Homo sapiens: one gene and its partners. The protein of the gene in region 3 interacts with the protein of the main gene of each other region in a biochemical or structural test. Each region holds a gene or a part of one and is shown on either strand. Other genes may lie near its edges.

The links.
Region 1: the proteins of SLC6A3 (region 3) and ARHGEF12 interact in a test that uses a peptide from one of them, tested with the Homo sapiens proteins (one large-scale study listed by IntAct).
Region 2: the proteins of SLC6A3 (region 3) and RAPGEF6 interact in a test that uses a peptide from one of them, tested with the Homo sapiens proteins (one large-scale study listed by IntAct).
Region 4: the proteins of SLC6A3 (region 3) and SNTG1 interact in a test that uses a peptide from one of them, tested with the Homo sapiens proteins (one large-scale study listed by IntAct).
Region 5: the proteins of SLC6A3 (region 3) and MPP7 interact in a test that uses a peptide from one of them, tested with the Homo sapiens proteins (one large-scale study listed by IntAct).
Region 6: the proteins of SLC6A3 (region 3) and PDZRN3 interact in a test that uses a peptide from one of them, tested with the Homo sapiens proteins (one large-scale study listed by IntAct).
Region 7: the proteins of SLC6A3 (region 3) and DLG4 interact in a test that uses a peptide from one of them, tested with the Homo sapiens proteins (one large-scale study listed by IntAct).

Annotation. Positions count from the first base shown.
Region 1 is NC_000011.10:120,479,413-120,482,912, reverse strand, and holds part of ARHGEF12 (rho guanine nucleotide exchange factor 12), read right to left. Parts: intron 2,954-3,500; coding exon 2,483-2,953; intron 1,654-2,482; coding exon 1,337-1,653; intron 1-1,336. UniProt on the Homo sapiens protein: May play a role in the regulation of RhoA GTPase by guanine nucleotide-binding alpha-12 (GNA12) and alpha-13 (GNA13). Acts as guanine nucleotide exchange factor (GEF) for RhoA GTPase and may act as GTPase-activating protein (GAP) for GNA12 and GNA13.
Region 2 is NC_000005.10:131,460,730-131,464,229, forward strand, and holds part of RAPGEF6 (rap guanine nucleotide exchange factor 6), read right to left. Parts: coding exon 3,312-3,500; coding exon of another isoform or gene 3,308-3,311; exon of another isoform or gene 2,884-3,307; intron 1,360-2,883; coding exon 976-1,359; intron 1-975. UniProt on the Homo sapiens protein: Guanine nucleotide exchange factor (GEF) for Rap1A, Rap2A and M-Ras GTPases. Does not interact with cAMP.
Region 3 is NC_000005.10:1,417,941-1,421,440, forward strand, and holds part of SLC6A3 (sodium-dependent dopamine transporter), read right to left. Parts: intron 2,764-3,500; coding exon 2,629-2,763; intron 1-2,628. UniProt on the Homo sapiens protein: Mediates sodium- and chloride-dependent transport of dopamine. Also mediates sodium- and chloride-dependent transport of norepinephrine (also known as noradrenaline). Regulator of light-dependent retinal hyaloid vessel regression, downstream of OPN5 signaling.
Region 4 is NC_000008.11:50,698,407-50,701,906, forward strand, and holds part of SNTG1 (gamma-1-syntrophin), read left to right. Parts: intron 1-3,500. UniProt on the Homo sapiens protein: Adapter protein that binds to and probably organizes the subcellular localization of a variety of proteins. May link various receptors to the actin cytoskeleton and the dystrophin glycoprotein complex.
Region 5 is NC_000010.11:28,296,565-28,300,064, forward strand, and holds part of MPP7 (MAGUK p55 subfamily member 7), read right to left. Parts: intron 1-3,500. UniProt on the Homo sapiens protein: Acts as an important adapter that promotes epithelial cell polarity and tight junction formation via its interaction with DLG1. Involved in the assembly of protein complexes at sites of cell-cell contact.
Region 6 is NC_000003.12:73,618,442-73,621,941, reverse strand, and holds part of PDZRN3 (E3 ubiquitin-protein ligase PDZRN3), read left to right. Parts: intron 1-3,500. UniProt on the Homo sapiens protein: E3 ubiquitin-protein ligase. Plays an important role in regulating the surface level of MUSK on myotubes. Mediates the ubiquitination of MUSK, promoting its endocytosis and lysosomal degradation. Might contribute to terminal myogenic differentiation.
Region 7 is NC_000017.11:7,200,628-7,204,127, forward strand, and holds part of DLG4 (disks large homolog 4), read right to left. Parts: intron 3,441-3,500; coding exon 3,381-3,440; intron 3,190-3,380; coding exon 3,065-3,189; intron 2,967-3,064; coding exon 2,797-2,966; intron 2,703-2,796; coding exon 2,566-2,702; intron 2,421-2,565; coding exon 2,276-2,420; intron 1-2,275. UniProt on the Homo sapiens protein: Postsynaptic scaffolding protein that plays a critical role in synaptogenesis and synaptic plasticity by providing a platform for the postsynaptic clustering of crucial synaptic proteins.

The DNA of each region.
Region 1 (3,500 bases), on a different chromosome or scaffold from region 3:
ATCAATTATATGAAGGTAAAAGAGAAACTAAGGGAGACCAGTCTTTAACTCAAAGGCTAAGGATACTTAAATCTACCCCTCAAGTCTCTGGTGTAAATGATGTCATGAGGAAAATGTTTGGGCTCTGGAAGCTGTGTTTTCTGATGGCAAACTTTTTTTTTTTTTTTTGAGACAGAGTCTCGCTCTGTCACCCAGGTTGGAGTGCAGTGGCGTGATCTCAGCTCCCTGCAAGCTCCGCCTCCCAGGTTCATGCCATTCTCCTGCCTCAGCCTCCTGAGTAGCTGGGACTACAGGCGCCCACCACCACACCTGGCTGATTTTTTTTATTTTTAGTAGAGACGGGGTTTCACCGTGTTAGCAAGGATGGTCTCGATCTCCTGACCTCGTGATCCGCCTGCCTTGCCTCCCAAAGTGCTGGAATTACAGGCGTGAGCCACCGTGCCCTGCCTCTGATGGAAAACTTTAAGATAGGTCTTTCTCTTGGAAATTGCCACACAAGTCAGTTTTGCAATAGTGACATCTTCAATTACCAATCTACAAAAATCCCATGCATGACCATGTTTTTAGATTACAGGAGCCACTGAAGCCAATTTCTATCTGTCATAGGATTTGGGAAGCTGCCAATGTCACCTAATGAGTCACAGATAATAGGCTACAGAAAGTCATAGCATTTCTCAGCCTAGATTCATAACTACATAAACCCTACCTATCTCATCTTCTTGTTCATGTCTGACAGAGGCCAGCCAACTACCCGAAGCATTTCAGGTTCTTAAACTTAGACACCCATACAAACACACAGTTCACAGAGCTGCAACTTTTTCTGCTCTTGTGATAGTCAAAAGATAAACAATGCCGACTGGGCGCGGTGGCTCACGCCTGTAATCCCAGTACTTTGGGAGGCCGAGGCAGGCGGATCACGAGGTCAGGAGATCGAGACCATCCTGGCTAACATGGTGAAACCCCGTCTCTATTAAAAATACAAAAAATTAGCTGGGCGTGGGGGCGGGTGCCTGTAGTCCCAGCTGCTTGGGAGGCTGAGGCAGGAGAATGGTGTGAACCTGGAAGGCAGAGCTTGCAGTGAGCTGAGATCACGCCACTGCACTCTAGCCTGGTTGACAGAGCGAGACTCCGTCTCAAAAAAAAAAAAAAAAAGAAAGAAAGAAAAAGATAAACAATGCCAATCTCAACTTTTTACCCAGGCCTATTCATGGATAATAGTCAAAGAAATCTAGAACCTGAACAAGTTTATTGACATCAGCATTTTCATCACCCTATTCTTCCCCTCTGCTAAATGTTTCTTACAACCAAGTCCTATGGATGTGGAAGTATGAGGTACCTTTAAGTGTTCAAGGTCAGCCTCTATCTTATGAATGTACTCCATGATCTGGCTCTGTGAATCTGCACAAGAGGAGGGACTCTGGATCTCAAAACAGGAATACTCCATAGCTCCCCAGCGCTGCTGGACCAGAAATTCGGGGGTGAATGGTGAAATTGCCCCATCGGAGTGAGTATTCTGAGGAGAATGTTGCTGCTGGTGGGTGGATTCCACAGCAGGGATGCCTGTCATGGGCTGCAGGGTAAGTGAGGAAGCAACCTCCTCATCTGTGGAACTCTCCTGCACTGGGTCATAGCCATCAAGGATCAAATAGTTTCCTATGGATAGAGACAGAATAGTTTGATAAGACCAGTGCTGCCATTAGAAAACAGAAATAGCATAGTGTGCTGACAACTTCAACTTGAAAAGTTATTAAGAGAGGGAAAAGCCATTAATTCCTGAGTTTAGTTTCAGGTACATCAGAATTTCCTCACTTCAGATGAAAGCTAAACTCTGCAAACTTTCATGGTAATTTCCAAAAAATTTCATTTCAAAAGTTTAAAGCTGGAAACTACAGTGCCTAAATGATCTTGCTACCACTTCCCCTGCCAAACGCCTCTCTTGCCCCATCTCCTGCCATTGTCTCCCTCATCCAGTGTTCGATCACCACAAAAAGCTTGCTCTTTGACACAAAGCCTCTGCCCCACTCTGCTCTCTGCTGGAATAGTAAGCTCCCAGGTACCCACCCGGCTTTATTCCCTCATTTCATTGAGGTCTCTGCTCAAATGCTACCTCATCGGAGGTCCTAATCCCTGATCACCCTGTTTGCCTTCATTACTCTCCGTCCCCTCAGTCTGACTTATGTTTCTTCCTAATACTTCCTGAAGTCTATTTATTTGTTTACTTATTTACCATCCTTCTTTCCCCTAGCTTCATGAGAAGATGGGATTTTTCTGTGTTTTATTCACTGCTATATCTCCCAGCACCTATGATGAGGTCTGGTACAGAGTAGATTCAGTATTTATCAAATGAAGGAATAAATATTGCACATGTGTGAACACACACACACACACACACCTGGATACCAATACAACATCCATTTCAAAATACAGGACAGTTAACAATGATCAAAATCAAAATCAAAGTTTAAGTGTGAAAGATACTTGCCTGAGATGCGTAAATTAACATCCTTCTCTTCCTTGTTAACTGCTCCATCACCTTCTGATGGATTCTCATCACTATGTGCTTCACGGGCATCAAAAAAGTGCTCTCCACTGTCATCAAGACCCCCTTCTGGCTCCATGGTAGGCATCTCTGGGGTCATAATCATGTGGTCCATTACTAAAATGTTACTTGCCTGGCTATCCTGGGGTGCCAGTCCCACTGAATCCCGTGGAGCAAAAGATTCAGTTGAAGTCCGTGGACTGTAACAAGTTGCAATGTCACCAGTTCCAGTTCTAAAGGGCATATGTCCTTCACCAGAATGATAGGCCTTAATATTTTCAGAGTTCTGGATGACACTGTCTGTCTGCGGCCCCTGAGAGGCTGTTCTGTATCTTGGGAAATGTTGCCAGTCTTCCTGAACGCTCTTCTCAGTCAAACCTAGCTGTTGCACCAGCAACTGCTTCAACAAACCCACTAAACGATTTAGGAAGGAGGGGGAAAAAAAACATATTCACAACTATAACCTCAGGCTGCAAGAATTAAATTAGCTGACTTACCAATGATCTATCTTTAAAAAGTATCTTTTAATGACATATTAAAATGTTAATTATTAATTTCATACAATCATCTTACTTCATACAATCATTTTCCATTTTGTTTTGAAGATGAAATAAAGCACCATCTTTTAGAGAAGATTTAACGTTAAACTAAACTTGAAAAGATCTAAGCATTCTGAATAGGGAGATACTACTATTTAGAACTCCTCAATAACCAATATCATGCCTCTATTTTTTCTTCTATATAACTAGAATAATACCCTAAAGGTACTTCTTAAGAATGTTGAAAGGCTGTGTTAAGCTAGACAGAAAAAGCTAAAAAAAAGTTCTGCTTTTTCCAGATCCAGACACTATATGCATATTATTTCCTCTAATTTTATGAGATACATACATTTACTGAAAATAAGAACCAATTTAATTTTGAATGGGCCAAGTGTATGCTATGAGGTCACCCAGACAATGAT
Region 2 (3,500 bases), about 130 Mb from region 3:
ATACTCCTAGAGTGTTCAGTTCAGTTGTAGACACTGGTTAATTTAATAAAGGCACATCCTATTACCATGACAGGGTCATGAATAAAGAGTCCCTATAAAGATTCTACTTTTTAATCTTAATCTACATGAGGAGTAGAAACAAATCATTATGAATTCTGTGGGGGATGTGTATAGGTAGGATTAGTTCAAGTGGAATTATGCTGCGATTTATAAGCACATCATGGCCTTAAAAATGGAGCTAACTACAACTCCTCTCCCTTTTAAAATTAAACTTGTTTTAAGAAGAATCCCTTTGTTGATCTACAGTGTGCTAAATAAAGATCAGAAAATAAATTACCTACAATTAACTTTTCATAATAAGTGGGAAGAAGGGAGTGGGAGAGCTCACGTAATTATCTACACTTCCTGGGCTTATGAATGTCAAAACATTTTTATTATTCTAACAGCCTAACTTGCTTGAGGAACACCACATCCAGTGAACCTCATGTAGTGCCTGGCAAACAGGAAGAGCTTACCAAATGGTTGCCATTATTATCAATGTTGTTGTTTCAAAATAGCAACTTTAGGTCAAAGTACTGATACCATACTGTGATTTTTCAGAGTCAAATCATAGTGAGGCAGGTACTTAAAAAAGCACAGTACAGAAGTCTAATGATAAAGACCAGCCACTGGGCACATATCCAAAGATGATATAATCACTCAAGGCGGGGGGTTGGAGATGAAGGGAGAGAAAGAAAAATTAGAAGGCAATCACCCACTTTCATTTACAAAAAAGAAGTAAAAGAAAGATGGAAGAAACAAAAATAGAAAAAGCCAATACCACCAAAATGGAAAATACATTAAATCTAACAACACTTCAATAAAGGCATATTAATTGAACATTTCTTTTCATAGGCATTGAATACCTAAGTAGAAAATCAGCTGCATGTAATGACAAAACCATACAGACATTTGTACCTATTTGTACCAACTTACCTTATTATTGCAAACATGGAATTGAAGTTCTTACATTCTCGACAATGAAGTGCAATTTTAATAAAATGCTTAATAATCTTCATTCGTTTGAGCTGATTTGCTTCAGTTAAAATTTCTGAGGCAACCCAGAATGTCTCTTGGTTTACAATGTCCTCAAACCTCTTCAAATGAGTATTTCCTGTTTTGGAATTTAACTTAAAAAGGTCATCGATGTACTCAGTCGGTTCAATATTACGAAACAAATCAAAGTCCCTCATTGACAGCTGGGTGGCCACCTCAATGGTACTGAGCTGCAGCATGGATAGCTGGCTTTCCTTAACTAGTTCTTGAGCATCTTCATCTGAACATAAGGTTTCTGTTTCCATGTTATTTTTTAAGTAATACCTAAATGGAAAAATTTTTTTAAATAAATGTATTCATAAATATGATTAAATAAGAGCACTTTTCCTTTTTGTCGTTGTAAAATATCATTTTACTGTTAATAACTTTTAGCCAAAAATATTAATTTACAGATAAAATGAAAAGTTAACATTTTAAATGAAAAGATTTTTGAGAAGTCTGTCTCTTATTCTACCAACTGGCATCTATTAAAGAGTAAAAATAATGTTGTTATGTCATGAACTTAATTATTTTATGAAACTATCTGTCAGATACTATTTTAGGTACTGGCCTTGCCCTCGTAAAGCTTTTATCTTACTGTTTTATCTGACAGAGGATTGGTACTATGTAAATATTTGTTTATGAATAGCATGAATTCTAATTAAGGCAAAATAAATTCCTGAATCAAGACGGTTAAAAATCTCTATTCAGAAGTTACTCCACTCACTTCCTTTTTAAATAAATTTCCAAGTGAAGCAAGAGGAATGAAATCTACAGAGGAGGGGAAACACTTCCACTAATGGTTTCTCCCTTGTTAAATACAAAACCTCATTCCAGCAAGTGGCACTTATCAGTTACCACACATTAAGACCTATATTTTGCTTTCTTCTCTTAAATCAACAATTCTACAGCACTTAAAAGTAAGAGACAGGAAACATCTTGTGCAGGGATGTTACTAAGGAAACGAGGTAATGTATCACCTGCTTTTACTTCGTTCTTTTCTAATAATCCAACTTGATTTAAGCCTAAGTTTGTATCCATCTATCCATCTATTTTTTACTGTCAAGAAACTCTTTTTTCTGCTTTTAGACTGTTCATATGCCTAAGACAATGCCATAAATAATAGTGCTGAAACTCATTATGCTATATATAATAATGTTTAACATTATAAGGTATGGTATACTTAGTAACTCATTTAATCCTTACAACATTCCCATGAGGTATATTCTACTATTACTATCCTCATTTTATGGGTGAGGAAATTCAGGTAGAGAAGCTACATATGACTTGCTCAAGGTCACATAGCCAGAGCTGGGATTTGAATGTGGGCAATCTGAATCCAGGGTCTATGCTCTTAACCACTATGTACAGCCAGCAAAACAGAGTTAACTCATTCTCATTTCACAGCAACCATGGCATGCAGTCACTGTAAGCTTTCTAGGGATCTTGTTCTACATATGAAACTGGGTTACCAAAAAGATTATTCTCAGAGTGGTTGAGTGTGGTAGCTCACACTCGTAATGCCAGCACTTTGGGAGGCTGAGGCAGGCAGATCACTTGAGGTAAGGAGTTTGAGACCAGCCTGGCCAACACGGTGAAACCTCGTCTCTACTAAAAATACAAAAATTCGCCAGGCATGGTGGCATGTGCCTGTAGTCCCAGCTACTCAGAAGGCTGAGGCAGGAGAACCGCTTGAACCTGGGAGGTGGAGGTTGCAGTGAGCTGAGATCGCGCCACTGCACTCCAGCCTGGGCGACAGAGGGAGACTCCATCTCAAAAAAAAAAAAAAAAACCAGAGTAAGGAACAAATGTACTACAGAAATAATCTAGTTTATTAAATAATTTTCAGAACACATTTTAAAATTTTTAAAATTTTCCTGCATATTCATTAAAGGAAAACTACTTAGAAAAAGAACTGTGAAAACCATGGCTTCTTTTGCCAAAGTACATACTGGCCATATTAAAAACAAATTTATAAATTAGTAGATACAGTCATTCAGATATATATGAAGATTTGTATCATTCAGCTTCCTCTATAAAAAAACAGGAACTAGATTATATCAGTGGTTCTAAGAGTTTATTTTAGCAGGAGTGACAAGATATTTTATCAAGCGTCTTCTGGAGTGAATTTAGGAGCACTAAAACATGATAATGTTTCTACTTACAATAGCTGTTTTAACAGGAAATCTTCAAAAGCACATCTACAAATAAGCACATCCACTAATAAGCTTATTCACCTTCCATTGAGTTGAATTCTATCAGCTAATTTGGAGAACTGATCTGGAAGTCTTCTCTGTTTTATGACACCCTCAGGAGTAACAGAAACTTCACAGAGAGAATATGTGTCGGATGCACCGGTCAAACCAAATTCATGAACAGCATGAAAAACTACTTCTTTAGCTGTGGTGTCTTTACTGATGATAATG
Region 3 (3,500 bases):
CCCTCTGTCCTTTGGGCAGCATGTCAGAGCCTCAAGGCAACCCCAGTTCCTGGGACAGTGTGTTTGGAGGCAGATGGCCAGGCCCCGCAGTCAGGACTCTGCAGGTGGCCAGTGTTTCAGCATGAGGGGAGGAGCCAAGCCGAGAGTGGCTGGGTGGGCAGTGGGTGGAGAGGCTCATACCCTGATGTGGCTCCCATGCTGGTCATCAGCCACCTGCCTGGCCAGGTAGCTGCAGGCTGGATCAGGTGTCACAGGGGAGCGCCTGCCTCCTCCTCACCCTGATCTGTGTGTGCAGCTCAGGCCTCTGCCCAGTGCCACACCAGAGCCAGTGCCCATGGCTGCCTCCCTGGGCCTCACCTCATGCACTTTCACTCCAGGACCTGCAATTGTCCTTTCCTTCCATTTCTTTCCTGATTTCTCTTCACTATACATCAATCCATCATCTATTATCTATCAATCAATCATCTATCTATCTATCATCTATCACTGTCATCTATCAATCCATCACCAATCTATCATCTATCTGTCATCTCTATAATCTATCAACTGTCTATCATCTATGAATATATGAAGTACATGTGTGTGTATGTATCTATCTCCATCCATCCTATTGTATATCCATCCTATCTACCTACCTATCATCCATCCATCCACCCATCCATCATCCATCCATCCACCCATCCATCATCGATCCATCCATCCATGCTATCCAGCTACCTATCATTCATCCATCCACCCATCTGTCCATCATCCACCAATCCACCCATCATCCATCCATCCATCCATCCACCCACCCATCCATCATCCATCCATCCATCCATGCTGTCCAGCTACCTACCTATCATTCATCCATCCACCCAAACATCCATCATCCAGCAATCCACCCATCATCCATCCACCCACCCGTCATCCATCCATTATCCATCCATCCATCCATCCTATCTAGCTACCTACCTATCATTCATCCACCCATTCACCCATCCATCATCCATTCATCATCCATCCATCCATCCATCCATGCTATCCAGCTACCTACCTATCATTCATCCATCCACCCAGCCATCCATCATCCAGCAATCCACCCATCATCCATCCACCCATCCATCCCATCCATCATCCATCCATTATCCATCTGTCCATCCTATCTAGCTACCTATCATTCATCCACCCATTCACCCATGCATCATCCATTCATCCATCCATCCATCCATCCATCATCCATCCATCCATACTATCCAGCTACCTACCTATCATCCATTCCTCCATCCACCCATCCATTATCCATACATCCAGCCAGCCAGCCTTCCATCCACCCATCCTATCTATCCATTCTATCTACCCACCTATCATCCATCCATCCTATCCACCTACTTACCTAGCATTCATCCATCCATCCATCCATCCATCCATCCATCCATCCATCCATCCAATCTATTCACTGTCTCCACCTAATTTCTGACATCTCATCTTTGTAATTTGTTCTCCAGTGAGCATCTTTTCACATGCACTGGTGTTTGTTTTGCCTCCTCCTGGGGCTGCCTATTCTTCCTAGCTGGAGCACTAGGCTCTACGTTGTCCTTGTGGTATTTTTCTTTGATTCTGTAACATGCCATGGTCCTGCAAACACACCCCTTGGCTTCATTTTGGCCTTTCTGGGGTCCAGACGCCCTGCTGACTTCATGGTTTGTCTGGCTCCAGCTCTGCACTTGTGGGCCCCCGGCCACAGCTGATTTTGCTGCCCTGGTTGTCCTCCTCTCTCTTCCTTGGCTCCCGTGGGCCACACGCCTGCTGCACCCATGGCTCCTGTCTCCACAGGGCTTCCCCTTCAGTGCTGCAGGCACACTTCCACCCCCACCCCCACCCAACTGCTTTGCAGCCTCATAGGTGCCATGTCCAGGTGCCCTCTCTCACTGCACCTGTCAGCTGCTGCCTCCCTGGGGCTTCCTGGGAGGCTTGCAGCCATGCCCGCCCATCCCTTCTCCCCTTCCTTCCCACTTCTGCCTTGGGTTTACACTTGCCTCATGACCCCCAGACCTGGCTCCACCGGCCCACCCACACAGGGCAGCACCTCTCAACGGCCTCCTGCCTCATACCCCAGCTGAGATGGCCCTTCCCCTCTTGCTGCATTGTCCTCCCACAGCAACATGGATGCCCCTGGGCGGCTTTGGGGCCTGCCACCTCCCCCACTTAGTCCACCTGATTTCCAACGATGCCCCAAGGGAGCTGCCATTTTTGTCATGCCAGCCTTCCGCCAACAGCTGCTTCTGTTTCTGGGCCTGTTTGCCAGGAAGGGTGCAGCCCTTTCTCCTCCCTTTCTGGACAAGGGTCCCATCCCCCATGGCCCAGCTGAGTCTCCTCTCTCCGGGAGGCTTTCTCCAAATATTTTAACCCTGAATTATGTCTTCTTTTGCTGACCAAAGCTGCAGCCTGAGTCTAGATGGAGTTTCTGATGTAATTTGATTTAGATGACTCGTGCTGTATCACAGGTACTTGGGATTTGGCTTCCCGAGGAAAGAACCCTGGTGTCTGCAACTCTGACACCTCTCAGCCCTGGCAGGCAATGCATATGGAAACCTGGGAATGCCAGAGCCCCTGTGGACTGTGAAGCAGTGAGCAGACTGTACTCACAGACGCCTCGCAGAGCCGGTAGAAGTCAACGCTCAGGTATGCTCTGATGCCGTCTATGGCTCCAGGGAGGGTGACCCCACGCAGGAGCAGGGCAGTGAGGACCACGTATGGCATGGTGGCTGTGATCCATACCACCTGCAGGAGAGGACAGTGTCACCAGGCTGCACAGGCAGGGCCCTTGGTGGGAGCAGACACTGGCACAAGGGCACCGGGTTGCCCTGACGGCTTGTCCTCTGATTGGGAGGCCCAATTCCCAAACATTTCCTGGGACGCCAGCTCAGCAAATGCTCCTTGGAGTGAGAAGGTCAGACACTTTCTGTCCTGCACACCCTCCCCAGGGATGGAAAGGGAAGAACAACTTGGCAGGGAAAGCACATTCCTTTTCTGCATTCGGTCCGCCAGAGTAGCTGGGAGTGGCTGATGGGGGTTTTCTGATGCGTGGGACGTGAGTGGATTCACACTGGTGAACGGCACTGTGGCACGATGAAGGGCTGCTCTGGGCTGTGTCCCTGCGGGAGGCTCCCGTGGCTGGTGCCATACTACACGCACTTTTCCAAGGGAGGAGTCGTATCTTGGTCAAAACTGGTTTTGGCCCATATAACAACCAAAGTTTTTTTTTTTTTTTTGAGATGGAGTTTTGCTCTTTTTGCCCAGGCTGGAGTGCAGTGGCATGATCTTGGCTCACTGCAACCTCCGCCTCCTGGGTTCAAGCAATTCTCCTGCCTCAGCCTCCCACGTAGCTGGGATTATAGGCACGTGCCACCGTGCCTGGCTAATTTCGTATTTTTAGTAGAGATGGGGTTTCATCATGTTGGCCAGGCTGTTCTTGAACCCCTGACCTCAGGTGATCTGCCCGTCTCAGCCTCCCAAAG
Region 4 (3,500 bases), on a different chromosome or scaffold from region 3:
CCCAGGCCTTAGGAGTCACTGCACAGCCCAACACTATGCCTCCCAAACAAATCCCCTCCTGTACTGGTGGGGGAAGGGGGTGAAGTGAAAGATGGGGTGAGCCTGGTTCCAGCATGCCAATGGCTGGAGCCCATGCCATACTTGATTCTCGGTTCTGGCTGTGGGAACCTCTTCCCTGCTTGAGCACCAGATCCCCAGGATACTGTTAGAGCCTCTTTAATGACAAAGGCTGCCACTGCTGCTAGTTTTCAGGACTGTGCACAGCTTGCAAAGAGCTAGGATCAAGAATGGTGTTCTGTTGTAGGTTCCAAGGTCTCGGGAAGTGCATGGGACACTTCCCAGAGCAGGTACTTCTTACAGTCTCCCAGCCACATCCCAAGGTAGATCTAGGGCTTAGAAAAGTCATGGTGCTCTACCGTGGCCTGAATTATATGATTCTATAGTGGGAAATTGGACCACAGAAAGATACTCACTCACCCTCTCCCATATTGGGAATTTACTCTCTTCTCATTTTCAGCCAGTCCCACAGCCACACAGGCTGACTGTTCTTCTTTTTCTGGTCAGATTTTGGAGTTTCTTCGTGTGTTACTGTTGAACTCCTGTGTTCTCTCTTGGATAATATGTTTGTAAACAAAAAAGTTACTGAGGTGGATCTTAATCAATTAGAGATTTATTTTGCCAAGGTTGAGAACATGCCTGGGAAAAAGAAACACAAATCACAAGGAGATCTGTACCCTGTGCTTTTTTTTAAAAAGGGTTCTGGGAACTTCAATATTTAACAGGGAAAAAGCAAGCAGGAAGAGGAAGAAAGAAAAAAAGTCTGGGTAGGCAATGAGATAAGTGGTCACATTCTTGTGAGGATCTTACTAATGAGCAGAAAAGCTACATTTTACATAAAGTAAACATGAAATTACAGCTTTTTGGGAATGAAAGGAAGGCAGTTTTTTCATGACTAACTACCTAAACTTAGCCCTTTGGTATAGTGAGTTTGGGGTCCCAATATTTGATTTTGCTTTCATATGTGCAAAGTGTGATTGTCTACACACCATTGTCATTCTTCTAAGTGGATGAAGTACCCTGGAAAAGCATCTAGTCAGCCATCTTGAAAAAAAAACCTGTTGTTTCTTTGTAATATTGCTTTATAAATCTGAGAGAACTTGGAACAAATCTAACAAAATAGAAGATACTTCTGGAGAAGTGAGAAAATTGAGAAAAATGCAACTGATGAGTTCTTGATATGTTTAGCTATTATTATTATCATTACTATTATTAAATGATACTTTCCAGTTGGCAAAAAAGTATTCTGGAGGCTATTCTTTCTACTGGGGCATAAGTCAAACTATGACAAAAGAGAAATGCATGCAGAGAGCAAGCCATAGAAGGCAAGTTAGGAAATGATACGAATATTTATCTGTATTTATTTTATTGAATCAATACTGACAACAAAAATTTCCAACATTAAGTACTTCCAAGTATTAGATACTAAGCAAAGAATTAAATATAGTATCTTATTTAATCATCAGATCAATTAATTATTTCCACTTTAGTGATGAGTGAAGGAAGCTATATATATGGTAATCAACTTGACAAGGATTACCTATTAATAAATAAAAGAGAGGAGATTCAAATCAAGACAGAATTCTGAAGCTAGAACTTTTGTTCTTATCACCTTATAACAGCTCCTGCATGTGTGTTAGAGAGAGAATGAGGGTGAGAAAGAGGAATATATACATTCTTATTTAAACCTATGTGGATAATCGTGTAAATACTCCTTATTATACTAATACTTCTAGTCAATGCCAGTCTCTAAGAGTATCTTATTTAGTTTTTCAGTTAGTTATATATATATTATTACTTGCATATAACTTGATAATGACTGCAACCGTAAAGGAACACAATCTTTTGAAATGTTATAGGCAGCAAAGGTAGAAACTCTAGTAAAAGAAATCTAGTGTCAATGATTTTAGATGATTATGTTGAAAGTAGATCTTTAAAATGATTGAGCTATAGTCACTTTTCACTAAATTTCTGATAAAGGAACCCCTGCTTTTTCCAAAGTTTCTCCTCCTCCCACCCATCCACTCTTAGCCATCTAAAGCTTAGAGTCTATGCTGCCCCCTTCTCACTTAACTCTCCAATATCTTTTCCTGGCAGGTGCATTCTATGAATTTCTTAGCAGGATCACCTGGTCTTTTTCAGGCTTGCACCAGGTTGCTCTTGCATTTGTCTTTAAGTCCTTGATGGTACTACAGTCTCTCCCTACAATACAACTTTCCCCCTCCTACTTTCCCTCAAGATGATTTATCGTTCCTTATTCTGCTTCCTTAGCATGTTACCTCTATAGCACTGTCATATGCTCGTTATTTTAACATATTTCTCTCCCTCACTAAAATGAGACCTGGGTGCTCAGATGCCATTTGCAGTGTGAGTCAGTTCATGAGAAGTATATTATAAATAACAACAGGAAATGGCAAGAAGTTTTCAGAGATGCTGAAACTATATTTGCAGAGTTGATTAGAGGATGCTTTGTCTGAGAGAGAGTCACGACTTGGGTAATATAACAGAAGATCTTAAATTGAGTTTTAAAAGAGCAAAGGAGTAAAGTTTTGCTAAGAGAATAGAAAATCTTACATGAAGTCCATTTTAAGATCCTATTGCTACATGTGATTTATGAAAAGGAAAAAATAACAAAATTTTCTGACTAATAATGACATTAGATAATATTTTTTATTATAAGGAAAATGAAGGGCAATTTAATAAACCATAAAATTGGCAAGGTTTCTGGAAACTGCAACGTTTAGTTATAGATTTTTGCCAATTTATCAATTTAAAAAGCTAAGGTAGATGTTGAAATATCTGCAGTATAAAGAGAGGGCATACTAAAATTTTTGCTATAGTAGCTTGTCATTATACTGTGTTCAAGTCCAAAATTTATAACCAGATCAATCATCCCATGTCCTTCCCTAGCTTCAGCTCTCAATGTTTCTGCCTCCTTTTCTTTGAATTTCTGAAATGCCTGACTTGGCCCCAGCCAGTCCCATCCACTCTCTGGAAAGAACACCCTTTTTCTATACTTTATCTTTGATATTCTACTCGTTTTCAGCCACTGTTTAAAATTTACTTCCTAGAGAACATTTCTCTAGCTTTTCAATCTATTGTGATATAATACCTTTTTCTTCCTCTTCTTCTTCTTCTTCTTCTTCTTCTTCTTCGTGTTCCTCTTCCTCTTCTTCTTCCTCCTCTTTTTCTTCCTCTTCTTCTTCTTCCTTCTTCTTCTTCTTCTTTGCCTTCCTCTTCCTCTTCATCTTCCTCTTTTTCTTCTTCTTTTTCTTTTTCTTCTCCTTCTTCTCCTTCTTCTTCTTCTTCTTTCTCTTCCTCTTCCTCCTCCTCCTCCTCTTCTTCTTCTTCTTCTTCTCCTCCTCCTCCTCCTCCTCCTTCTCCCTCTTCTTCTTCCTCTTTTTGAGATGGAGTTTCCCTCTGGTTGCCCACGCTGGAATGCA
Region 5 (3,500 bases), on a different chromosome or scaffold from region 3:
ATCGCAACTGCTATGTATTTTCATCTCCCTTCTCTAACAATCAGTAACAAGCAACCCAATCAGTAATAAACAAGCCTGACAAATAGCTCCTAAATTCACAGAGAAAAGAATGGTCTCCTCTCTTTCATAAGTAAAGCAAGCTGATAATGTTCTAGTAAATAGAAAGACTAAATGCCTCTTCAAGAAAAAAACATTTATATGCCTGGAAAAAACATCTTGGGTTTTTTTGTTTTTGTTTTTTTACTTAAGTATCTGTTCATAGTAGGTAGCAAATAATCTTTCCACACATATGCACTTTACCAGTTCTTTTAAAGACTCAGTAATCTAAGAAAGCAAAGCATAAGACTATGCTGAAAGAGCTAAGCCGCAGTTTACATAAAATTTAAACAAAACACAAGACATTAAAAAAATTCAACTACTCATAAATAAAGACCAATAAATCTACACTTTGGTCTGGGTTTCTGAACACAGGAAGAATCAGAGGGTTCAATAGGAGAGGTTATTTCTGAAATCGTAGGCATACCTTGAAGATATCACATGTTCCATTCCAGACCACCTTAGTAAAACTAACACTGCAATAAGGTAACAGAAATGTTTCTGCTTTCCAAGTGCATATAGAAGTTATATTTACAGTATACTGTAGTCTATTATGTTGGCAATAGCATTAGCTCTTAATTTTAAAATGCTTTATAATTTTTTTAAAATGCTAGTGATCATCCGAGCCTTCAGGGAGTCATAATCTTTTTGCTGGTGGAGGATTTTGCCTTGATGTTGATGGCTGCTGACTGAACAAGGTGCTGGCTGCTGAAAGATGGATGGCTGTGGCAATTTCTTAAAATAAGAAAACAATAAGGCCGGGCGCTGTGGCTCACGCCTGTAATCCTAACACTTTGGGAGGCTGAGGTGGGTGGACTGCGTGAGCTCAGGAGTTCAAGACCAGCCTGGTCAACAGAGTGAAACCCCATCTCTACTAAAATATAAAAAATTAGCCAGCTGTGGCAGTGTGCACCTGTAATCCCAGCTACTCAGGAGGCTGAGACAGGAGAATCTCTTAAACCTGGGAGGCGGAGGTTGCAGTGAGCCAAGATCGTGCCATTGCACTCCAGCCTGGGCAACAGAGCGAGACTCCGTCTCAAAAAAATAAAAAAAATGAAGTTTGCCACATCAACTCACTCTGCCTTTCAGAAAAGATCTCTCTTTTGGTAGCATTTCACCCACAGTAGAACCTCATTCACAATTGAAGTCAATCCTATCATACCCTGCCACTGCTTTATTAACCAAGTTTACAGAATATTGTAAATCGTTCATTGTCATTTCAACAATGCTCACAGCATCTTCACCAAGAATAGACTCTCTCTCAAGAAGCCACTTTCTTTGCTCATTCAGAAGAAGCAACTCTTCATCCATTCGAGTTTGATAATAAGATTGCAGCAATTCAGTCATATTTTCAGGGTCTACTTCTAATTCTAGTTCTCAGTATACTATTTCCACCACATCTGCAGGTACTTCTTCCACTGAAGTCTTGAACCCCTCAAAGTCATCCATGAGAGCTGGAATCAACTTCTTCTAAATTCCTGTTAATGGTGACATTTTGACCTCCTCCTTTGAATCACAAATGCCCTTAATGGCATCTAGAATTGTGAATCCTTTCCAGGTTTTCAATTTACTTAGCCAAGATCCATCAGAACAATCACTATCTATGGCAGCTATAGCTTTACAAGATGTGCTTCTTAAATAATAACTCTTGAAAGTTGAAATGACTCCTAGATCCATGGGTACAGAGTGGATGTTGTGTTAGCAGGTATGAAAACATTAATTTCCTTGTACATCTCCATCAGAGCTCTTGGGTGACCAGGTGCATTGTCAATGAGCAGCACTTGTTCAATGGTACCCTTTCTTCTGAGCAGTGGGTCTCGACAGTGAGCTTAACAGATTCAGTAAACCACGCCATAAACAGATGTACTGTCATCCAGGCTTTGTCGCTCCATTTATAGAGCACAGGCAGAGTAGATTTTGCATGACGCTTAACAATTTTTGGAATGGTAGATGAGCAGTGGCTTCAACTTAAAGTCACCAGCTGCACTAGCTCCAAACAAAAGAGTCAGCCTGGCCTTTGAGGTGAAGCACTGACTTCCTTCTAGCTAAGAAAGTCCGAGACGGCATCTTCTTCCAATATAAGGCTGTTTCATCTACACTGAAAATCTGTTGTTCAGTGTAGCCACCTTCATCAGTGATCTTAGCTAGATATTCTGGATAACATGCTACAGCTTCTATATCAGCATTTGCTGCTTCACCTTGCACTTTTACATTAGGGAAGCAGCTTCTTTCCTTAAACCTCATGAACCAACCTCTTCTAGCTTCCAACTTTTCTTCTGTAACTTCCTTACCTCTCTCAGCCTTCATCGAATTGAAGAGAGGGTTTTGCTCTGCTGGCTTAAGGGAATGTTGTGGCTGGTCTGATCTTCTATCCAGACCACTAAAACCTTCTCTATATTAGCAATAAGGCTGTTTCACTTTCTTATCATTTGGACGTTCAGCAGAGTAGCACTTTTAGTTTCTTTCAAGAACCTTTCCTTTGCATTCAGAGCTCGCTTGTTTGGTGCAAGAGGCCTAGCTTTTGGCCTGTTTCAGCTTTTGTCATGACCTCCTCACTAAGCTCACTCATTTGTAGCTTTTTGATTTAAAGTGGGAGACACGCGACTCTCCATTCACTTGAATACTTAGATGCCAATGTAGAGTTATTAATTGGCCTAATTTCAATATTGTTGTGTCTCAGGGAATAGGGAGGCCTGGGGAGAGGAAGAGAGTTGGGGAATGGCCAGTTGGTGGAGATATCAGAACATATGTAACATTTATCAGTTAAGTTCACCATATTATATAGGTGCAGTTCATGGAGCCCCAAAACAATTAGAATCGTAACATCAAAGATCACTGACCAGAGATCACCATAACAGACAGAATAACAATGAAAAGTTTGCAATATTGTGAGAATTACCAAAATATGACAGAGACACACAAAATGAACATACACTATTGGAAAAATAGCACCAATCGACTTGCAGGGTTGCCAACGAACCTTCAGTTTGTAAAAAACACAGTATCTTCAGAGAGCAAGCCTGACTAACAATTTCCTTCACTTTAAATTCAAAATGAAGGAATACCCTTTCCTTCCGAATGTATCTCATTTAACAAAATTCAAGACTTTTTTTTTTTTTTTTTGAGACGGAGTCTCGCTCTGTGGCCCAGGCTGGAGTGCAGTGGCACGATCTCAGCTTACTGCAAGCTCTGCCTCTTGGGTTCAGGCCAATTCTCCTGCCTCAGCCTCCCGAGTAGCTGGGATTACAGGCGCCCACCACCACGCCCGGCTAATTTTTTCTATTTTTTAGTAGAGACAGGGTTTCACCGTGTTAGCCAGGATGGTCTCAATCTCCTGACCTTGTGATCCGCCCGCCTCGGCCTCCCAAAGTGCTGGGATTACAGGCGTGAGCCACCATGCCTGG
Region 6 (3,500 bases), on a different chromosome or scaffold from region 3:
CTTTCTGGAGTGTTTGGGTAAAATCTCCCTCAGAGTCAAAAATATGATACTTGAATCAAAACTGTGGATGTTTTTGAGGCTCTGTTGAGTTAGTGGGTAGCATAAAGAAGGATGTTAAGCTTAGAGACAAGATGTTGATTTTGAACTTACGGAGAAAGGTTTGTTCCGGTGTTGGAGCCCTGCTTGGAACTTTTACCAACCTCAGTGCCAGCCTTGAGAACAGCAAAGGATGGTCTGGCCCAGAAGCTGCCCTAGATAGTTTCCCTGGCCTCAGACCCAGCCTGGCCTCAGCTGAGGCCTTAGGGAAGCTTGCTGTCTCTCCTTGCCCCGAAATTAACCCTCAGTGGCCCTTACTGAACGCTTTTGCTGTTCCTGGGTCAACCATAAAACTCCTCCCATTGGAAGCTGTTTAAGAACTTGTTTATTTCATTGGGCCGGCTCTCTGCTCCTGCTGGGTACTGTTTATTCTCTTCTAAAAGGCAGAAGGATTTATATGTCCTGGAAACTCTCATGTGCAACATTTTTATTTTCTTTTTAAAATAAGCCCTAATGTTTGCTTCTCTGTTATAAGCTGAAGGAGATTAGAAACACTCAGATTTTCAGTACCAGCTCTTCAGCAGCCTAGAACTTGCACAAATGATGTGGCATTCTTTAAATTATCTTAGGTTTCAGTTTTTTTGACACCTGCTGAACGCTTAGGGTTTGTTAGTGCTGTACCAGCATAGACGTTGTCTCTTCTGTTCTACCATGTGAGCTATATTAAGGATTCTCAAGCCTTAGCGTGATTGGAGTCACTGGAGAGCTTAACACAGATTCCTCAGTCTCACCCCTAGAGATTCTGATCCATTAGGGCTGGCCAGGGGCCTGATATTCTGCATTTCCAATGAGCTCCCAGATGATGCTGGTCCTTTAAGTAGCCGCTAAGCTAGACGAAGAGCTTACGCTCAGGTAGATATAGACCAAACATGTATTGGTCTTCACACAGTTATGGTTTCACTGGTCATTGTCTAAACACCTTCCTAAATTTCTTAAGACCAGGATAAAATTTTAAAACCCAGACTGCCTAGGCCGGGCTCAGTGGCTCACGCCTGTAATCCCAGCACTTTGGGAGGCCGAGGCAGGCGGATCACGAGATCAGGAGATCGAGACCATCCTGGCTAACACGGTGAAACCCCGTCTCTACTAAAAATACAAAAAATTAGCTGGGCGCGGTGGCGGGCACCTGTAGTCCCAGCTACTCGGGAGGCTGAGGCAGGAGAATGGCGTGAACCTGGGAAGCGGAGCTTGCAGTAAGCGGAGATAGTGCCACTGCACTCCGGCCTGGGTGAAAGAGCAAGACTCCGTCTCAAAAAAAAAAAAACAAAAAAAACCCAGACTGCCTAGCAGTTAAATGACAGGTAATCATAGCCTAGACAGGCATCTCTGATCTCACTGAGGCCACATCTGAGCTGCAGCAGACTTGGGATTGCTACACTTGAGTGAGTTAAAGAGTTCTGCTCCCAGCCTCAGTTTCCCATCCTGACTTACCCCCTGATTCTTAGAGCAAAAGCACTCCAGAGCAAACATCTTTTTTGCTTTTCTTTCTGGGAAAGGAACAATTCTGGACATAACTTTCCTTGGATTGATTGAAAAACTTGAGATACATCCTCGATACCTTTTGTTCTTTAACCTCCCATCCGGTCTGTCTTTGAATCCTGCGGATTTTACCTCCTAAATACATTTTGAATCTATTCACAGCTCTCCAGCTCACTCAAATGACCACCGTGGTCCAAACCAGAGTTTCTGAATCAGCACTGCCAACATTTTGGAATGGATAATTCTTGGGTGTGGGTGTGTTGTTGGTGGTGGTGGTAGTGGTGATGGGGGTGGGAGGCTGACCTGTGCATTGTAGGATGTTTAGCAACATCCCGGGCATCTACCTACCTACCTACTAGAGGCTAGTAGCGCTTTCCAAGTAGTATCAACAGTATTTGTGGACATTGCCAAACGTCCCTTGAGGGGCAAAATTGGCCTTTGTCTCAGACACTCTTGCCTGGACCATAACTCTTTCCTCTACAAATCTTCTTGCTCCTCTTCAATTCCTTCTTTACCTAGCATCAGGAATTAATCTCTTATAAATGTGTATCTTTTATCACTCTCCCTCAAGCCTCCTATGCTGTCCCATTTCTCTTGGTTGGCTATAAGGTCCAACATGCTCTGGATCCTACCGGCTTCCACCTGCCTGGATTCTTCTCCCCTTCATCCTCTTCTTTCAGCTTCTCATGTCTCTGAGAGTCGATGCATGTGCCCCTGAGCTCCTCTCTGCCTCCAGGCCTTTGCACTTGCTCTTCTGTCTACCTGGAACAATCTTACCAAGTACTCTGCACTAAATAACCTGCAAAATTTCCACTTCTCTCCTCTTGCCCACAGCCTTTCTGTCTGCACTTAGGATTTGCTTATCACTAGACAATGGTTCTTTCTATTCTCATCTCAGCTGAAGCATCACTACCTCTAGGAAGCCAGGCCTCTCGGACCTCGCAGACTACATCTGGTGCCCTGAGACTCTTACTTTGGTTATCCTCCTGCATGGCATTTATCATAGCTGTAACTAAATAAGTGGAAGAGTCTGTCTTGTCCAGTACCATGTCTGTGGCACTAATCCATTGCCATGTGCACTGTAAGCTCTTGATATGTATTCATTTGGTGATGAGTTCAAGATTGAAAGGCCTGTCTTGGCAGTCATCAAAACTTTTCAGGTTGCTAACCAAAAGTGGGCTCGTGTTTAAAAAGAATGAGTTTCTCCGTGATGACCCAGTTAACAAAATTGTTTTCAGGTTTAGGGGAGGCATTATTTTTGTTCCACTAGATCCACCCAGATCAAGTTTTATAAAGCCCCAAATCCTAGAAACTATTTTGTCCTTTTCAGAACTGGAAATAAGTAAATCTGATAGACAATTGTATCAAAAGGTGTTCCAGATGTCCAAACACTTTGAAATGTATCTGTTAGAGTATTCACCATGAAGTATATTTTGTTTCTGAAAAGCTCCTGCACAGGGCCATTCCATAGTATATCTAACAAAACAGCGCACTTCTGCTAAAAAAAAGTTACAGATTGTCACTTCTATTTCATTTCTGTGATTTATAAGGAAAATTAGGATTTGTTTTACAAATATGTTACCCAGCTACACTGGATTAAATGAGTATAACCAGACAATTTGAATTGGCAATTCTGTTGAGATTTGTCTGTAAGTGGCTCTTTCTGTGTTCAGAAATGGTGCTTGCCTCGCTATAAAAATATTTGATGAGTAAGAATCTATTTATAAGGCAATTATGCATTGGACCGTAGACCAAGGAGCTTAAAAGAAAAGAAAATAATATTCATTGAGTTCCACTGGGTGCCATACACTTAAGGTGCTTTCTGTATGTGCATACATTATCTTCTCCATGTTCTTCATTAGATAGACCTCTTTTTTTAATGGGAGTAGCAGATTATGAAAGATTAAGGCTAGAAGTTAGATTCT
Region 7 (3,500 bases), on a different chromosome or scaffold from region 3:
CCTCCGCCTCCCAGGTTCAAGCAATTCTCCTGCCTCAGCCTCCTGAGTAGCTGGGATTGCAGGCATGCACCACCATGCCCGGCTAATTTTGTATTTTTAGTAGAGATGGGGTTTCTCCATGTTGGTTAGGCTGGTCTCGAACTCCCAACCTCAGGTGACTCACCCATCTCGGCCTCCCAAAGTGCTGGGATTACAGGCATGAGCCACCGGCGCGCCCAGCCTGTTTTGGTTTTTTTTTTTTTTTTTTTTTGAGATGGAGTCTCGCTCTATCGCCCAGGCTGGAGTGCAGTGGTGAGATCTTGGCTCACTGCAAGCTCCGCCTCCCAGGGTCAAGGAATTCTCCTGTCTCAGCCTCAGGATTAGCTGGTATTACAGGCGCTCGCCACCACACCCAGCTAATTTTTTTTTGTATTTTTAGTAGAGACAGCGTTTCTCCATGTTGGCCAGGCTGTTCTCAAACTCCTGACCTCAGGTGATCCGCCCGCCTTGGCCTCCCAAAGTGTTGGGATTACAGGCATGAGCCACCTCGCCCAGCCAACAAATAGCCACATTCTTAACTTTGCATATTTTTCCAGTTAATTCACTTAGATTTTGATCTAGATGCACAGTAGTATAATTTACAAATAGAGATAACTTTTGTTTTTCCCTTCCAAATGTAACTATTCTCCTTGTCTTGTTACACTGTCTGAAATCTCTAAAGCAGTGATTCTCAACCACCATAATTTCGCTGGGGCAATTCTGTCATAACATTTTTTAATTGTTATGACTGAGGGGGAGGAGTACCATTGTCATCTGATAGACAGAGGCCAGGGATGCTGCTTAATATCCCACAAGGCACAGAACAACCCCCCACAATGAAGAGTTATTGGGTCCAAAAATGTCAGGAGTAACACTGAGAAACCCTGCTCTAAAGCAATGAAGAATAATAGCAGTGGGAAGAGGCATCCCTGCCCTCTTTGTAAGTTAACGGAGGCCGGGCGCGGTGGCTCACGCCTGTAATCTCAGCACTTTGGGAGGCCGAGGAGGGCAGATCACCTGAGGTCAGGCATTCGAGACCAGCCTGGCCAACATGGTGAAACCCTGTCTCCACTAAAACTACAAAAATTAGCCAGGCGTGATGGTGGGCACCTGTAATCCCAGCTACTCGGGAGGCCGGGGCAGCAGAATCACTTGAACCTGGGAGGCAGAGGTTGCAGTCAGCTGAGATCACACCACTGCACTCCAGCCTGGGCAAGAAGAGCGAAACTCCATTTCAAGAAAAAAATTAAAATTAAATTAAAAAATAAGTTAATGGACACACTGCTAAAATTGTATCATTATAAAATGTTTGTTACTGGTTCCTGATAACTAGTCTTCACCATCTTAAGGAAAATTTCTGTGTTCCTAGTTTACTAAAAGCTTTCATCCAAAAGAGATGGTGAATTTCACCAAATGCCTTTTTCACGTCTATTTAAGATAATCACATCGTTTTCTCCTCTCGCTCTGTCACCCAGTCTGGTGGGCAGTGGCGCAATCATTGGCTTACTGCAGCTTCCAACTCCTCGGCTCAAGCGATCCTCCAGCCTCAGCCTCCCAAGTAGCAAGGAGTATAGGCACGTGCTAATTTTTTTAATTTTTTTAGAGACAGGATCTCGCTTTGTTGCCTAGGCTGGTCTCAAATCCCTAGCTGGTCTCAAATCCTCCCACTTTGGCCTCCCAAGTGCTGGGATTACAAGCATGAGCCACCACACTTAGCCTCCCGTAACGTTTTAATATATGAATCATATTAAGAGATTTCCTAATATTGAGCCATCTTTAGTTTTCTGAAACAAACCCTATGTTATTCCCTTAACATGCTGCCATGTTTGCTTTGCTACTATATTATTGTAAACTCTTGTATCTCTATTCAGAAGCAAAACGGGTCTATACTCTCCTTATTTTACACTATCCTTGTGACCATTCGAACTGGCCTTATAAAATGAAATGTGAAATCTTTTATCTTTTCCTGTACTCTGGAAGAGCAGAAGAATTATCTATTCCTTGAGAATTTCACAAAATTAGCCATAAAACCAACCAGGCTTTGTGCCTTCCAGGAGAGAGATCGTTGACGATCTTTTCTAGTTCTTTTATGGTAATTGATTTTCCATCTCTTCTCCAACAACAGCAAGGATCAGAGGTTGTGGCTATTTCATAGGGAATATCTGAAGAGGGACAGCTACAGGGATGTCGTGGGACTGCATGTCATGGGTTAAACGGGATGGGTCATGGGGAACTTTGGTGTTTGAAGGGCTCTCACAGGTTGTGATGTCTGGGGGAGCATAGCTGTCACTCAGGTAGGCATTGCTGGGCTTGGCCACCTTTAGGTAGACAACATCATACGTGTTCTTCAGGGCTGCCACAGCATCTTCATGCATGACGTCCTCTAGCCCCACACTGTTGACCTGGAGTCAAGGAAAGCAAAGCTCAGACAAAGCCACAAATGGCCCAAGACAGAAGCACTGGGGTGAAGTGATGAACTTGGGCCTGCCAGGGCTAGTAGGTGAGACCCAAATCTGGGCTAGAAAATGGGCTAGATGGAGTCCTCACCGCCAGGATCTTGTCTCCAATCTGCAACCTCCCATCCTTGTGGGCAGCACCCCCTTCGATGATCTTTGTTACATAGATGCTATTATCTCCTGGGATGTGCTGGTTCCCTACGCCCCCTGCGATGCTGAAGCCAAGACCTGGATGGAGGGGAGGCCAGAGGTGGGTGCCCAGGAAGCAGGCTTGGGGGCACAGGACAGTTGGGATGGGGGTGGGAACAAAATGAGTTACTACCTTTAGGCCCCTTGATGAGCTTGATCTCCATGACCTTCTCAGCCGGGGGCTTCCGGCGCATGACATAGAGGCGAACGATGGAGCCTGCCTCTTTGAGGGCTTCCACCGCCGCTGAGTGGGTCACCTCGCGCACGTCCACTTCATTTACAAACAGGATGCTGTCGTTGACCCTGGGAGCAGCAAGGTGGGCCTGAGCCAAGAGCTTCCTGCTGCCCTGGCCCTCCCTCTCCAGGGACCAAGCAACCTAACCCCTGTCTCCTCTCCCCACCTGAGGCGGCCATCCTGGGCCGCAGCCCCACCAGGAATGATCTTGGTGATGAAAATGGATGGGTCGTCACCGATGTGTGGGTTGTCAGTGCCACCTGCGATGCTGAAGCCCAGACCTGAGTTACCCTGGGTGAAGGAGGGGAAGAGGGTCAGCTCCCCTCACTGCCCAAGTCTGGCAAGGCAAGTGGGGTGGGAAATGGCTTGGAGCAGCCAGAGGAGGAAGGCACAGGGTGAGGGGCTAGCCACCCAGACCACATGGCAGAAAGAAAGGTACAGACGGGAGGCCACGGGGACTGCCGATGGAGGAGCCTGCTCACCCTTTCCAATGTGATTTCCTCGTATTCCATCTCCCCCTCGGTCCCGTTCACCTGCAACTCCAGCACGGGACAGAAACACAAAAGCAGTGAGACAGACATTCCTGTCTGACCACCTGCCCG